Linked DNA regions of Homo sapiens: region 1 is linked to region 2. The links come from fine-mapping of genetic effects on gene expression. A gene starts in region 2. The other region holds a variant in brackets. All regions are shown on one strand. Distances are from middle to middle. Region 1 holds the start of TOP3B (DNA topoisomerase III beta). Region 2 holds the start of PPM1F-AS1 (PPM1F antisense RNA 1).

Region 1 (8,327 bases), 42 kb after region 2:
CCTGAGACCCTCTGGCTAGTCGGTCCAGCCCCAAGCAGACATCAGGACTCTGTCACATCTATCTCCCACCTATTCCACTCCACCTTTTGCTTTGCAGGTCATGCTCTGGCCAAATTAAATCAAATATCATCATCGAAGCAAACACGCACTTGAAGCCTCTGTGCCTGCGCTTCCCTGCCTGAGAGAAAGCTCCGCCAGGCCTGGAGGATGCAGCTGGATGGCCCACAGGCCCAGCTCAAGTCTCCCAACACCACTGGCAGGGTAAGTCAGCCCTCCTGTGCCCACAGCTCTTGGGCTAGGTCTCCATTCCAACCCACTCACATCATGCCATCATCAGCGACTACTTCACCCCCAAAATAGGACACGATGGGCTTTGTGTCTGAATCACTGTTGGTCTTTGCAACAGCTTTCTGTGCCTGACACATGACATTCAATACCTGCTAGCCAAGTAAAAGAAAACCACATGAACCCTTTTTGTTTTTTCAGTCATTATAAATGTAGCACTGATGTTTATAAACATAGCACCGTATTAAAAAAGAAAAAAAAGACTCGTATTGAGACAACTGGGAAATCTGCTGTGAAAAAAAATAAAGTTAGACTCCTGCTTCCTAAATCCCACTAAAACCGATTCCAGATCTAGCAAAGGTTTGAGTAGAAACAATGAAACCAGAAAATATTAGGAAAAACATGTGCTTTTAAAATAAATCTCACAAGCCAGGTGTGGTAGCACATGCCTATAGTGTCAGCCACTCAGGAGGCTGAGGCAAGAGGATCGCTTGCTTGAGGCCAGGAATTCAAGGCTGTTGTGTGCCATGACTGCACCTGTGGATAGAACAGCCACTTCACTCCAGCCTAGGTGACAGCAAGACCCTGTCTCAAAAAAAGTAAAAGCAAAATAAAATAATCTCAGCATAAAGAAAAACTACCACCTAGATGGGCACAGTGGCTCACGCCTGTATCCCAGCACTTTGGGAGGCTGAGGTGGGTGGACCACTTGAGGTCAGGAGTTCAAGACCAGCCTGGCCAACATGGCAAAACCCCATCTCTAATAAAAATACAAAAATTAGCTGGGTGTGGTGGTGGGTGCCTATAATCCCAGCTGCTTGGGAGGCTGAGGCATGAGAATCGCTCGAACTCAGGAAGTGGAGGTTGCAGTGAGCCGAGATCATGCTATTGCACTCCAGCTTGTACAACAGAGTGAGACTCCATCTCAAACAAAAAAAAAAAAAAAAAAAAAAGGGAAAACCACCACGTAAGTACCTTTGTGGTATCACATCATGTCCAACAACACTCGCAGAAGAAACTCAGAACTACAATGAGCTTGTGCTTATCACATAGGGAGAGACTCAAAGTCGTTGCACACACAGCAGATGAGGGCATGGGGAAGTTAAATGGGAACAACCTCTATGTGCAGCAATTCAGGGATCCCTCTCAAAGTCCGAGTGCACATCCCAGCAATTCCACTCCTTGGAATGAACTTAATAGTCCAGTTATTTATTGAGTACCTACTGCATGCTTGGCCTAGTCCAGGATGCAGGGAATACAGCACAAAGCAACACCAGGTCCTGCCCTCCCAGAACTCATGCTGTAGTATGGGAGCAGGGGAGGGACAGGGCAGGGCTGGGTGACACCTGGGAGAAGAGTCCAGGCAGAAGGAGCAGGGAAGGTGAGGTCCTTGGGGAGGATATGGCTGGGCAGGGGGGCTCATGGGGCTGAGGGAGGGAGCAGGGGTGTAGAATGTGGGTCTGCTCTAGGGGTGCTGGGAGGCAGCAGAGGGTTTGCATAGGTGTGGGATAATCTGACTTCAAGTGTTAAAGGGACCTCTCTGGCTGCCACATAGAAGAGGATGAATGGGCCCTGGGTAGCAGTGGTGGAGGATGCGAGGGAAGTCAGAATCCAGGCAGACCTGGGATGGCGGGACATGGGAGGGGGAGGGGAAGGTGAGTCAAGAATGACCTGAGGCAGAGCTGGGCATGGGCTCACACCTGCCATGGGCTCACACCTATAATCCTAGTGCTTTGGGAGGCGAAGGCAAGAGGACCACTTGAGGCCAGGAGTTTGAGAAGAGCCTGATTAACACAATGAGACCTCATCTTTACAAAAAAGCAAAAGGAACAACCCATGGCTTTGGCTTAGGCATGACAGGAAGGGACTGGCAGTCTGATGTGGGACTTCAGGTGTGTTAAACGGGACCTGCCCATTGGACAGCCTGGGTGGCCTGGAGGAGGTGGCAGCAATGTGGAAGGAGCCCAGGCTGGGGGTCGGGAGATGAGGAGCTAGCAGGGTGAGTCAGGAGGGGTAAGGTCCTGAAAGCCACAGGAAAGAGCACTTCAGGGCAGTTATCACCATGTGGGGGACACTGACAGGCCAGGCGAGATGGCAGCTGAGACCTGACTGTAGGGTCTGGCAAACAGAGCCCTGGGTAATCCTGATGGGGCCATGTGGTGAGTGACAGATGAAAGCTGCATGGGGTGAGCTCAACAAAACCTGGGAGATGGGAGAAGGCTGGTGCACTGTCCCCTCTTGTTTCAGGATGGTGGCTGTGCCAGCATGTTCTCCGCTGATGGGACTGCTCTGGCGAGAAGGAAAAGAGAAGCTGCGTGCCGGAGGGGAAGGAACTGCTGCAGTGATGGCCTTGGGAGGGTGAGGGGCAAGAGAGGCAGCCGGTCAGCATCCAGGCGATGCAGAGCTGCCACAAGGCTGCACTTCTCTTGGTGGAGGAGGAGGCATGGTACGGCTGTCCACTGAGGGAGGACAGGTGGTGATGCTGCGGGCAGGCCCACAGCAGAGGAAGCACTGGATTTAGTTAGATGGGAGAGTCCAGGTGAGTAGGAGGGAGAGGGAGTGGGTCAGGGTTCGAGGGGAGAGATTACAAGGACAGAACCTGACTCTGAGTTGGGTGAAGAGGGAGGTGAGGGTTGGGGAGGGTCCACAGAGGGTGTGCTCTGTGGGGTCCAGGAAGTGAGGCACAAGAGCAGGAAGTGGGAGTCAAAGAAGCAACTCCCAGAGGGTGGGAGGCTCAAACAGGAATTACAGAGGGGCCTGGGTGGTGGCATGCTGACCCAGGGAGGGCAAGGGCTGTGAGACAGGTAGAGAGTGAAGTCACCTGGGGAGACTCACAGGAGTCAGTGGTGGGCCCTGACAAGACTGTCCATGTGGACTCTGAGTCCCCAGGAGGTAGGACAGGGCAGCGCTGGAGTGGCCTCAGGCTGGGCACGGTGGTGCCTGTGATGAACCACATCACTGGGGAGTTCTCTGCAGCATTATCAATCATGATAAAAGGTTAGAAACAAGCTGGTGTCTGTCAACAGGGAGGTGGTTAAATAAAAGCATGGCATTCTCTGGCCGGGCGCGGTGGCTCACGCCTGTAATCCCAGCACTTTGGGAGGCCAAGGTGGGCAGATCACGAGGTCAGGAGATCAAGACCATCCTGACTAACGTGGTGAAACCCCGTCTCTACTAAAAATACTAAAAATTAGCTGGGCATGGTGGCAGGCGCCTGTAGTCCCAGCTACTCGGGAGGCTGAGGCAGGAGAATGGTGTGAACCCGGGAAGCGGAGCTTGCAGTGAGC[C/T]GAGATTGCGCCACTGCACTCCAGCCTGGGCGACAGAGTGAGACTCCATCTCCAAAAAAAAAAAAAAAAAAAAAAAGCATGGCATTCTCTACAGTAGAGCACCTGGCAGCATTACAAAGGAAAGCATCTGCTTGGTACATACTAACGTGGATCAGATCACTGAAATAAATCATGCTAAGAAAGCTGGGCATGTAACGGTGTGTAGAGAGCACTGCCATCTGTGATCACACATATGTGTGCACACGTGTGCACTTGATTATGAAGAGGCGATATGTCTGGATGGAACGCAAAACAAACAGTCCAAGCAATCACCTGGAGTGGGTGTTAGGGCCTGGAGGTCAGGGCTGGGGGTGCCTCCTCACCACATTCCCTTTTGCACCTTTTACATTTAGCGCCTGGACACAGGTGACTGAGGGACAAGAACTAAGACAAGGGACTTTACAATAAAACCAGAAAAATAAAGGAGGGTTGTAAAGGGCATTGTTCAGAAAGGATGCCAAAGGAACTCCCTCACTAAAGGGGCTTCTGCTGCTCATCATGCTGTGCAGGGGAAGAGGTCCAAGGTCGGCCTTGGGCTGTCAACCTTGTTCCCCACTTAAGAGATCACAGGACTACAGTGAAATCAGTAATCTTGACCAGAAAGCTGTCCCAAATAAAATGACAATTTGCTTTTTTCCTCAAAATAAGTAAGTGGATGTTCCCCTTAAATGTACAACCATCCCACAGTGAAAGAGCCGAGGCCTTGTGGAATGACGACACTGTCTGCAGATGAGCTCTCTGGCCCATGACAGCTCCAGCTGCATCTCCCAAGGCTCTGCTGCGCACCCACCTTTCCTCCCTGTGCGCCAGCAGGCTTCGGCCTAGGCCACTTTTCCCCCTTAGTCTACTTGCTCTGACCCCTGCCCCTCCCCTCCTGAAGACTGCATCTGGCGTCAGCAGTCTGTCTCTCCCACAATTGTCAGGTTCATTGCCATATTTCTGGCACCCAGCATGCACTAAATGCCTGCTGAGGGAATGAATGAACAACCAAGGTGATTATGACTGGCCTCTGCTCTCCGTTCTGGGGAAGTTTTGATTCTACCAAAATCAGAGGCCCAGAAGTGAGGTTTAAAAGAGATTTAGGGACTCCCCTTCTCTCACCCTGGGAAGCCAGAGGCCAAAAGGGAAAACTCGCAGCAGAGGGGCATTGTTCTGTGAGGGTCTGAGTTTCCCATCTCTTCCAAAGTAGGAAATTTTGTCCTAAAATGTTTCCTCAGATTTTCTCATGTCTATGCCACAGAGTAGTCAGCAATTATGTATGACATAATGAGGACACACCAGGGACCAGGCAGTCCTGCCAGCATCCTAGGCAGGGATGCTAATAGGTGCTGCCATTTTATTGGCCTAGACTGGGACTGTGGGGTCAGAGAGACCAGAGCTCCAGTGGCTGGACTTGGTTGTTCTAGAACCCGTGCCCCAAGCCTGATCCTGTCCTGCCTCTGTGAGCACTCTGATGGAACAGCAGCCCAGCTTTGCTTCCTTGTAGCACTCATCACTACACTTGGTACAGCTTCCATCTACTTATTCAGCTCTTGTCTTACAGCTCCTAGAAAGTAAGTAAGCAGCAGGAGAACACGGGTTTTGCTTTGTGCATTCTCACGGTAAATAGACAGTGAGCAAATACTTTGCGAGGCTGAGGCAGGTGGATCACCCGAGGTCAGCAGTTCAAGACCAGCCTGGCCAACATGGTGAAGCCTGGTCTCTACTAAAAATACAAAAATTAGCTGGGCGTGGTGGCGCATGCCTGTAATCCCAGCTACTCAGGAGGCTGAGGCAGGAGAATCACTTGAACCCGGGGGCGGAGGTTGCAGTGAGCTGAGATCGCGCCACTGCACTCCAGCCTGGGTGACAGAGTGAGACTCTGCCTGCAACAAAACAAACAAAAAAAGAAACAAGCAGATGTGGCCTGGGAGTAGGCCTAGCAGTGGTCTGAATAGCATTAAAATTCCTAGGATTTACCACCTCAGTAACTTTACCAAATGCTTCTAGAATCAGGAAAAGAGGGAAACAACCATTTCTTAAGCTCCTCCTTTGTAGTAGGCACACCATAGCTATCAACACTATTCAATCTCGCCAGCAACCCCATAAGGCAGGTGTTGTAATTTTTTAAAACTGTGAGTAAATGGAGGTTCAGAACAAGTCACACTAGTGTCAGGTGACCTTGGCAAAAGAATCCCAGGACTGGCTGGCCATCAAGCCCAAGTTAGGCTGGCCTCTCAGGTCCTGTTTCAAAAGGTGAGAAGATAAAAAGGCAAGACTAGGAACATCTTACCTTTCACTTCTGCGAGAAATTATTGCCCCTGGATTCCAGCTAATTTGTTCACAAAAGTACCCTACTTCATTTACAGATAACAGGTCAGAGAACCTGGGTGCCCTCAAAACCCAGCCAGGGCCTAGGGGGCGGCGAGTGGAAGCTGCCTGGGTGTGTACCGCACCGATCTGGGCCCCGGTGGCTGCACAGCTTCCCTGAGCCTCAGTTTCCCTACCTGTGAGACTGGTACAGCAGATCTCACCCTAAAGAGCTGTGGGAGGGTTCGAAGAAGAAAAGTATTAACCACAGCGCCTGCTCCCTGCAGGCACATGGCGGGCCCATCTCCACCTCCCTGAACCCCCACAGCAAGCCCCGCGGGAGAGTATCACCCCCGCCAGGGAAGAGGCAACAAGAATGCAGAGCCCGGCCCGGGCGCTCTCCCGAGCTCGCGGGTCCTCCGCCGGCCAACGTTCAGGAAACAAGCCAGAAAAATGCGTGCGCTTCCCGCCTTTCTGAGCCGCCGGGCGAGGGTCCCGCAGCCCGCCGCTCACCCACAGCCGCACCGCGGATCCAGCTCCGGTCCTTGTTCCCGGGGCGGCTACCGACAACCCCTATTTCCGGGTCCAGCCGCTTCTGGCGTCCCCGCGTCCGGTGTGCCAGCGTCTGCCCTCCGGCTCCGGCGGGTCGGCGTTCTTAGGTTCCGTGGCTCGCGGATTCCGGGAGCACCCCAGGGAGTGGCACTTGCACGCCGCGGACCGCAGGGATCCCCAAGCCCTGCACCCAGATTCTTCCCCGCCACGGAGAGACAATCATGACAATTATCATTACAATGATTATGAAAACTGGCATGAAAACATTTATGCTGTTAATAATTAAAATAATAAAAATGTACCGATGTGTGTATAGCAGGCTTCTTTTCGATGCTGTAAAAAAATCTGTGGAATGAATGAATGATCTGTGTAAAATATATTTGGAAGATGAATTCTAAAATTAAGTTATTTATTTATTTATTTATTTATTTATTTTGAGACAGAGTTTTACTCTTGTCGCCCAGGCTGGAGTGCAGTGGTGTGATCTCGGCTCACTGAAACCTCCGCCTCCCAGGTTCAAGCAATTCGCCTGCCTCAGCCTCCTAAATAGCTGGGATTACAGGCGTGCGCCACCACGCCCAGCTAATTTATATGTGTATGTATATATATGTGTGTGTATACATATATATATATATTTTTTTTTTTTTTTTTGAGGCGGAGTCTCACTCTGTTGCCCAGGCTGAAGTGCAGTGGCGCAATCTCGGCTCACTGCAACCTCCGCCTCCCGGGTTCAAGCGATGATCTCGCCTCAGCCTCCCAAGTAGCTGGGACTATAGGCGCTTGCCACCACGCGGGCTAATTTTTTGTATTTTTTTAGTAGAGACGGGGCTTCACCGTGTTAGCCAGGATGGTCTCGATCTCCTGACCTCGTGATCCGCCCGCCTTGGCCTCCCAAAGATTTCTATATTTTTAGTAGAGACGGGGGTTTCACCGTGTTAACCAGGCTAGTCTTGAACTCCTGACCTTAGGTGGTCCGCCTCCCTCGGCCTCCCAAAATGCTGGGATTACAGGTGTGACTCTTCACGCTCGGCCAACTAATTTATTTGTTAGAGCATTAGGATTATGGAAGGTTTAAAATACGTTTTATGATCTTATTTTAAATAACATACACACATTGCCCTTGTTCCTTGTAGATTTTCCCAACCTGCTGTTTTTTTTTTTTTTTTTTTAAAGACAGGGTTTCACTCTGTCACCCAGGCTGGAGCGCAGTAGCGAGATCACAGCTCACTGCAGCCTCGATCTCCTGGCGTCAGGCGATGCTCTCACCTCAGCCTCCCCAGTAGCTGGGACCACAGGTGCCAGCCACCAAGCCCAGCCAATTAATTTTTTTTTTTTTGGTAGAGATGGGGTCTAGGGGGAGGGTCTCACTATGTTGCCCAGATTGGTCTCAAACTCCTGGCCTCAAGTGATCCTCCTGCCTCGGCCTCCCAAAGTGCTGGGATTACAGGGGTGAGCCACTGTCCCGGGCCCCAACCTGCCTTTATTGGAATGATCTGTGTAAAGTATATCTGGAAGATGAATTCTAAAATTAAGTTATTTATTTATCTAATTTATTTTGATAAATAATAAGTAGTCTGGATAGAGGCTCTGGAAAAAGAAAAGTTCTATAGGCAAATTAAGGTTTGGAAATGTCACAAATTATGAGTCACGGTGAGACTTCACTTTCAAAGCAGAACTCCTGATTCCAAACCCACACCTTGGTAGGTTCTTCGTCTCCAAAATGGCAACTCCATCTTCCTGGTTGCTCAGGGACAGAGCCTGGGAGCATCCTGGACCACCCACAAATCCTGCCATTACTGTCTTTACAATACAGATGCTCCTCAACTTCAGATGGAACTACATCCACATAAACCCATCTTAAGTTGAAAATATTGT
Region 2 (8,327 bases):
CCTGTCTCAGCCTTGGTGGGCAGCTCTTCTCGGTACCTGGGGGGCCCCCACCCTCGCCCCGGTCCTCCGAAGCTGTCCCCAGGGTCTGGACGGGAGCACTCACAGACAAGCCGAAGAGCTGGTTGAAGGAAGGGAGGGACACGTGCCGGTCCTCCATCTTGCGGCGAGTGTTCCGGATGGCGTGGATGGAGACCAGCCACTGCCGCTGTGAGGCCCGGGCAGCCAATGGCACCTGCTTCTGCCACTGGCCGGCGACTTCCCAAAGGCGGTTAAAGAAACTCTGTGCCAGGCTTTGGGCATCCAGCACTGATGGGCACAATGGAGGGATTGTCAGGGAAGTGCCAACCAAGCCAGCTGAGGCCTCGCTGGCTCCCTGACAGCTCCCACAGGGGCCTGCAAAGCCCCCATCACCTCCCGGGGCATTGTGAGCACATCAACTCAATAACGCGCACATGGCAGCCTGTTACCAGAATTAGAAATGTCTAGTTTGGCAACTTGCCCCTTGAAGTCTCCCATCCCACCATGGAGCAACTCTACTCATGGGAACCCACCCTGAAGAAATCATCAGAAACACAAAAATAATTTTAAAGACAAAGTACAGAATCACTTATAATTGCCCATTAATTAGAAATACTATATATCCAATGACAAAGGAATAATACTTAAATTATGATCTAGTCTCGGCCAGGCGCAGTGGCTCACGCCTGTAATCCCAGCACTTTGGGAGGCCGAGGTGGGCGGATCACCCGAGGTCAGGAGTTCGAGACCAGCCTAGCCAACATGGTGAAACCCCGTCTCTACTAAAAATACACAAATTAGCCAGGCATGGTGGCGGGCGCCTGTAATCCCAGCTACTCGGGAGGCTGAGGCAGGAGAATCGCTTGAACCTGGGAGGCGGAGGTTGCAGTGAGCCGAGATCATGCCATTATGCTCCAGTCTGGGCGACAGAGCAAGACTCTGTCTCAAAAAAAAAAAAAAAAAAAAAAGATCTAGTCTCTTGATGAAGAATTAAGCTGCTATTAAATATGATTTTCATAACGAAATATGCAACTCCCATACGACCCCACCGTGGCACTCCTGTGGACTTATCCCAGAACAATGAAGGCTGTTCACATAAAAGCTTGAACACATGAACACAAATGTTCATAGCAGCTTTATCTGGAACAGCCAAAATCTGGAGTCAGCCTAGATGTCCTTCAACGTGGAAATGGTTAAACAAACCGTGGTCGACCCATACCTTTGAATACCACTCAAGAATGGCAAAGAATGAACTCCTGATGCATCAAACAACCTGGGCTAATCTCCAGAGAATTAAACCAGTCCCCTAAAGTTACACATCATATGCTTCCATTTATATGTGTTCTTGAAATAATAAAATGGTAGAAGCCGAGAAGATTAGTAGTTGCCAGTGGTTAGGGATGGGGTCTGTAGGGGTGGGGGTATAAGGGTGGCCTTAAAAGGGTGACAGGAGGGATCCTGGTGATGGAACTGCTCTGTATTTTGACCATGTTAGGATCCTGGTGGTGATATTTTATTATAGTTTTGCAAAATGTTACCATTGGAGGAAACTGGGTAAAGTATACATGGAATCTCTTTGTATTATTTATTACAACTGCATGTGCAGCTATGATTATCTCAAAACAAAAAGTTTAATTAAAAAAAACTAGCCCAGGCATAGTGGCTCATGCCTGTAATCCCAGCACTTTGAGAGGCTGAGGTGGGAGGACTGCTTGAGGTCAGGAGTTCAAGACCAGCCTGGATAACATAAAGAGACCTTGTCTCTTAAAAACAAACAGGCTGGGCGCCATGGCTCATGCCTGTAGTCCCGCGCTTTGAGAGGTAAAGGCAGGCAGATCACTTGAGGTCCGGAGTTCGAGACCACCCTGACCAACAAAGTGAAACCCCGTCTCTACTAAAAATACAAAAATTAGCTGGGCGTGCTGGCATGCACATGTAGTCCCAGCTACTTGGGAGGCTGAGGCAGGAAAATTGCTTGAATCCGGGAGGCAGAGGTTGCAGTGAGCCAAGATTGAGCCACTACACTCCAGCCTGGACAACAGAGCGAAACTCAGTCGCAAATGAACAACACCAAACCAAAAAAAATTAGCTGTGTGTGGTGGTATATCTACTCCCAGCTATTCGGGAGGCTGGGGCAGGAGGATCCCTTGAGCCAAGGACGTCGAGGTTACGGCGATCTCCGATTACACCACTGCATTCCAGTCTGGGTGACAGAGGGAGACCTGGTCTCTTAAAACAGAAAACTAAAAAATGGATTTTAATAGAGTTTATAAGCATGTAAAATGCTTCTGTCATGATACTAAGTGAAAAAAGAAGGAAAATTACATATGCAGTTTAACTACAAGTCCATGAAAAACCACCAGGGCCAGAAAAAAAAAAAGGCGGGAACAGCACACAACCAAGGTGTCAGAGTGGGCCTGCACGTGGCAGTTCCACGGACAGCTTTTTCCTGAAGTACACTTTCTTAATACTTCCCCAGTTTTTCATTACAAGTGTTAGTCTCGTGTGACAGTGGCTTTAAAGCATGTCCACAAATTCTTTGACTTCCCCTTTTGCGAGGTGGAGCTCACTTCCCACTGCTGAGTGTGGGAGCTGGCTGCTTCTGATGAAGAGTGGCAGTGACTGCGTGTGCTTCAGGTGTTACGAAACAAAGAGGCCCTGCGCCTCCCGCCTTGTGTATTCTCACTCTCTTCCTCCCTCCCTCTCATCGCTCAATCTGAGCTGTGAGGATGCTCAAGCAGCGCCACGGAGAGTCCACATGGGACGGGACCAGGGCCTCCTGTCAGTGGCCGTGTGTTGAAACCACCGTGGAAGCAGGCCCTCCAGCCCAGCCAGCAACCATGTCACCACAACCCAGTAAGAGACCCTGGACCAGAACCAGCTAAGCTGCTCCCAGATTCCAGACCCACAGAAACTGGGAGAATAAATGTCTGTTGTTTTAAGCCACTACATTTGGGGCAATTTGTTATGTAGCAACAAATAATATAAGCCACAATACTCATTTGAAAAGAAAAAATACCCAAATCCTACCTAAGCTTGGCTTCTCAAGAAAAGATCAACCAGTAACAGGCCCAAAGGAAACCATGGGGGCTCTGGCTTCAGGGACTCATGTCACTTCAATGCACAAACTCTCCTGGAACTCCTGCCAGCCCAGGTGCATGTGGCAAGCATGGTGAATCAGGGCCAGTCAGCCGAGGGCAGGAGTTGAGTGTCACAGGCCACACCCAAAGGACATGGGGAACTGAGAGGAGGAAAGAGCTCCTGCCTAAAGGCGGAGGCTGTGGAAGAAAAGGAGAAGGGCTGAGGCCAGAGGGGGCCACCGAGGAAGAACCATGAACGCGAGGGCTTATGCACGCAGGAGGTCACAGAAAGACAGGTTCTTGGGAATCCATGCATCAAGGCAGGGGTGGGGGCATCCAGAGCCAGCTGCTGCCGCCATGGCCAACACAGGGGCCTATTCAAGCATTTGGCAAGAACTGGGGACTGGCAAGGCTATGGGTGAAGGAGGGGCCTGAGAACTCATTCAGGCAGGCCCAGCTCAGGGAAGGCAGCTCCACACAAGTTTGGCCAGTGGATCCCCTGCAAACCAGCAGGAAACCCCCCTCGTCCTGCCAGTCCTTGTAGCGCTGCCTCCTCTTCCTCTCGTCTGAGGGCCACTGTGCCCAGAAAACTGCCCCTAAATGCCATGGACTCCTCCTCACTCCCTCTGGAAACTGTGGGCTCCTGGTGCTTACCAGGCCTGAGCTCGGGCTGGGGGAGACTCCGGCCGCCGCTGTGGCTCACGGTCTCGCCCCGGGTGCTACTGCTATTTCCAACAGCCGCTTAGCCTAGACTCTGCTCAGGAAAGGCCAGCGGCTGAGGCAGTGCTGCCCAGCCCACGGACTCCCCATGCCAAGGGCTGCAGCCCCGCAACCTCGCTTCTGGATTCTTCGCTGATCCAGTCACCGGGGAGGGGCTGACTGGCAGCCACACAGAGGTTTCAGCCACTCGCTGCTCTTCAGTGGCAATTCTTATAATACAATCCCCACTCTGACGCAATTTTGTAAGAATGGCTTGGAGTCCAAAAACTTGACTACATTCTACTTCCGTGACAGGGAGAGCATGATCAAGGCCGCTAGGCAGGCCTGCATGCGAGGCACTCTGACAGACGGGGAAGCAAGGGCAGGCGAGACTTCCTTCTAGCTGCGCCCTCCCTCCTTCCCAGGCCTGCAGGAGCCCCGAGCGTAGGACTGGGCTGGTGCCGGCGCAGCAACGCTCCTTCTCACCGGCAGGTGGCGCTGTCTCCCGCGTGGACGGACAGAGACCCATCAGGCGGGGAGGGCCTGGGCGGTGGCGGCGCCCCCTTGGTGGGGCCGCAGAGCGGAGGAGCAGCAGCTGCCACCGGCCGGAAGCCTGCTGGCTCGGCCGAGAACAATGGCCGCCTGTCACTGTGGACAGCTGTCTCCCAGGCTAAGGCAAGGCTGCGCTCCCAGGGAATGCGGGCAGGGAGCCAGGGCGGAGGGCAGAGGACGAGAGCGAGGAGGAGAGCGCGGGCACCCACTGATGCTGGCGGCCTCGGGTATTCGCTTTCTCTCTCTTCTCCCACCTTGTTCCTTTTCCCCGGATGCACGCATGCACTAGTAATGCCGAATTTAGAACAACAGGGAAAGGAAAGGAAATGGCAAAGGAAGGGAAAGGAAATGGCCGACAGGAAATGGCAAGGAAGGGAAAATCCACTGCAACTCTGCTGCCTGCTGGCCTGTCCAGGGACAACTATTCAGCTGGGTGGGACGTTGCTACCCCCTTGTGGCACCCCTGCTGCAGCCTGCGATTCTTACGCCCTGTATTTCTGGTCTAACATCAACCAACACTTTGGCGAAATATAATAAAATGAAATTACTAGGAGAATGAAAGAAAGTCACATGAAATAAAAGCCCTGCTTTTTAATGATTATATCCTCTGTGAAATGGATCTGCAGCCCTCTCCATTTCTGGGTTCCCCTGGCCACACCATGCTTATGGCTGTCCCAGGAGCAGGCTGACAGACAAGCTTCCACCAGCATCTAACCATGGGGCTCATGGACACCGTAGAGCGTCTCCACCCAACAGAATCCTGACTTGGGGGCAGCTGAGGCAGGGGGCCCGAGCGTTGAGGGGACCACGCTGCTGCCCCGAGACCTGCTGGCATGCCACCTGGCCAACCCTGACTTCGCCTGCCCGGGCGCATGTTAACTGAGTTACAACACTGAGGGCACTTGAACCTGGCTGCATGACCAGAGATCGATCACCTGTGAGATCCTCTGTGAAACGGGATAAGCATCTTTAATTTCCTGGGCTGTTCTGGAACTTCAGTCAGACAGGACACAGGAGGGTGTCTGCACCACCCACCCCTGCCTCGTGGGCTGACTGGGAACTATATGACCTGTGGAGGGCTGTGACCGCCACCCTCCACCTCACTGGGGCCGCAAGCCTTCTCTGCTCCTTGATTCTGCTGCCGTTGTGAGCGAGGGCCCCAGCACCCTTAGGGACCCCAATCAATGGGCTTCCCACAATGTCGTCACCCTTTGTTGCCTGCTAAGCAGCCCTGGGGCCACCTCAGAAGAAACAGAACTCACAGGTCACAGGGGCCTTTTCCTCCTCGTCATCGTCCTCCTCCTCTTCTTCTTCCTCCCTGGGCAACTTCCTGAATTCGGAAAGGTCTGTCTGTAGCAGCTGTGAAACTGCTTCGTGGGCCAGAGCAGCAGCAAGTGGTGGCGGGGCCTTCCTAGGGATGAGGAGGGGGAAGTGAGGGGCAGCCCCCAGCAGGAGACCACACCTAGCCCCCCTTCCCCAACTGTCAGCCCACATGCTGAGGGGTCACGGCCAGCAGGGCGGCCCCTGTCCTCAGGGAGCTGGGACAGGAAGGTCACAGGACAGCAAAGGCAGACGCACAACCATCTGGTGGGGAGCTGGACCATACTTGAGCCTGCGGCTAGTTGGGAGGGGGCTGTTGATGGGCAAGTAAACTGCCTGACATCCATGCTGATGATGGCTCCTGGCCACAGGAGGGCAGAGGAATCACCCATGCCAGCTGGGGACCCTGGGGGGTGGGGAGTGTTCTGGGTTGAATTGTGTCCCCCCTAAATTCATACACTGAGGCCCTAACCCCCAGTACCTCAGAATGGAGCTCATTTGGAAACAGGGTCATTACAGATGGAATTAGTTAAGATGACGTCATGCTGGAGCAGGCTGGGCCCCTACTCCAATGACTGATGTCTCTATGAAAAAGGGAATTTGGGCCGGGTGCGGTGGCTCACATCTGTAATCCCAGTACTTTGGGAGGCCAAGGCAGGTAGATCACGAGGTCAGGAGTTTGAGACCAGCCTGGCCAACATGGTAAAACCTCATCTCTACTAAAAATACAAAAATTAGCCGGGTGTGGTGGCGCATGCCTGTAGTTCCAGCTACTCAGGAGGCTGAGGCAGAAGAATTGCTTGAACCTGGGAGGTGGAGGTTGCAGTGAGCCAAGATTGTGCCACTGCACTCCAGCCTAGGCGACAGAGCAAGATGCTGTCTCCAAAAAAAAAAAACAGGTTGGGGGAGGAATTTGGACACAGACACACACACACAGAGAGAATGCCAGGGGAACATGAGGCAGAGACCTGGGGGATGAACCTACAAGCCAGGGAATGCCAAGGGTTGCCCACAAACCACCAGAAGGAGCCAGTTCTGTCAATATCCTGATCTCAGATGACAGCCTCCAGCACCATGAAGCACACTTCTGTTGTTTAAGCTGCTGGGTCTGTGGTCATTTGTACAGCAGCTCCAGGAAGCTGATCCTGGGGTGTGGGACCCATGGGCACACTCAGCAGAGGAAGTGGCTGTGCGTGGTCCACAAGGTCCCTGGGCGGATGGGGCCATAGGAGCTGCCGGGGTGAGGGGCTGTGGGAACAGGGCAGGCCAAGCTTTATGCTAACAGGGAAGCACTGCCATTGGTCTGTGTTTTATTTATTTATTTTTAGAGACAGGGTCTTGCTCTGTCTCCCAGGCTGGAGCACAGCTGTGCAATCATGGCTCGCTGCAGCCTCAAACCCCTGGGCTCAAGAGATCCTCTCACCTCAGACTCCAGAGTAGTTAGGGCTACAGGCAGTAGTTAGGGCTACAGACATCACCATGTCCAGCTAATCTGTAAATTTTTTTGTACAGGTGGGGTTTTGCTATGTTGTCCAGGCTGGTCTTGAACTCCTGCCCTCAAGTGATCCTCCCATCTCAGCCTCCCAAAGCCCTGGGATAATGGCGTGAGCCGCCACACCTGGCCGCCTTTGGTCTGTTTGAAGAGGGACATGGCATGATCAGATGGGGCTTTTAGGCCTCTCTGACCCTGGTGTGGAGGGTGGGCTGGCAAGAAGGGGACGACTGTCTAAAGGAGAGAGTCTAAGACCTGGGCTGGGCAGGGCCATGGTGACAAACAGGAGCAGACAGAGTCGGGCAGTATAAATGGAGGGGCAGGGACAGTGTTGAAGTTTCTATTCTGAGCAACTAGAAGGCTCGTGGTACAGTTAATTACCCTGATGGGGATGGAAGAGTCAGGCAGGGGATGGGCAATGGGCTCTGTTTCCACAGCGACTTGTGTTCCACGGAGGTCAAGAGGCCTGAGGGCCTGCAAGAACATGGTCTGGGCAGGAGATGGAGCTGCGGAATGAATGAGGATAGGGGGCTGAGTCCCACAGGGCCAGAGCATGGCTAGCAAAGTGGGGATGACTCCAGGAGTGGCCTTCTGGGTGCCACGAAGGAAATGTTTTAAGAAGTGAGATTGGGTCACTGCTTTCAATGTCATAGAACAGAGCTGAGCAGTTGAGGAGGCGTAGTGGGTAGAAAGGGAGGTCGCAGCAGGCTGAAAGCAAACCGACAGGAGGGTTAGCGTCTTTTAGCAGGTAGGCAGGGCAGAAGAGAGCCACGGGGCAGATCAGGGAAAGAAACACTGAAGCCATCTGTGGCTGAGAAGGAGGGCAGTGGGGAGGAGTGTCTAAAATTCTGAGCCATCCCTGGCTTTTCTGGGCAGAAGGGGTCGCTCCCTCAGTGGCCCTATGGCCTCTAACATGCATTTTGACCCCTGGAATCTGCCTTCTCACCCAGTGGGGGCCCTGGAAGCTGGACAACACACATTCACCCCTGTGTGCCTGTCCCTGAGAGTGGGGGTCAGGGGAGCATGCCTGGGGTGGCGAGGTGATTCTGCACTGGGCCGACACTCCCGGCTTTAACTGGAAGGCGAGGACCTTCCAACAGCACAGGCTGACAGGTCTTGTTCCATGGGGGCTGGGCACCCAAGGTATCTACTGATGGTCTGAGGAA

Evidence for each region.
Region 1: its variant is fine-mapped to the expression of PPM1F-AS1 in whole blood (TOPMed, PIP above 0.99).

What each region holds. Positions count from the first base shown.
Region 1 is chr22:21,976,317-21,984,643 of GRCh38, forward strand. It overlaps TOP3B (DNA topoisomerase III beta), which reads right to left and starts at 6,471. Exons shown (of 18, transcript NM_001282112.2): 1 at 6,414-6,471. RefSeq lists enhancers at 2,252-2,421, 5,872-6,858, 6,356-6,650. The variant C/T (reference allele first, on the strand shown) is at 3,573.
Region 2 is chr22:21,933,921-21,942,247 of GRCh38, forward strand. PPM1F-AS1 (PPM1F antisense RNA 1) reads left to right here and starts at 4,317. Exons shown (of 2, transcript NR_147620.1): 1 at 4,317-5,693; 2 at 7,182-8,327. PPM1F (protein phosphatase, Mg2+/Mn2+ dependent 1F) reads right to left here. Exons shown (of 8, transcript NM_014634.4): 3 at 5,612-5,760; 4 at 104-306. RefSeq lists enhancers at 3,934-4,740, 4,741-5,548, 5,549-6,355 and a silencer at 4,292-4,451.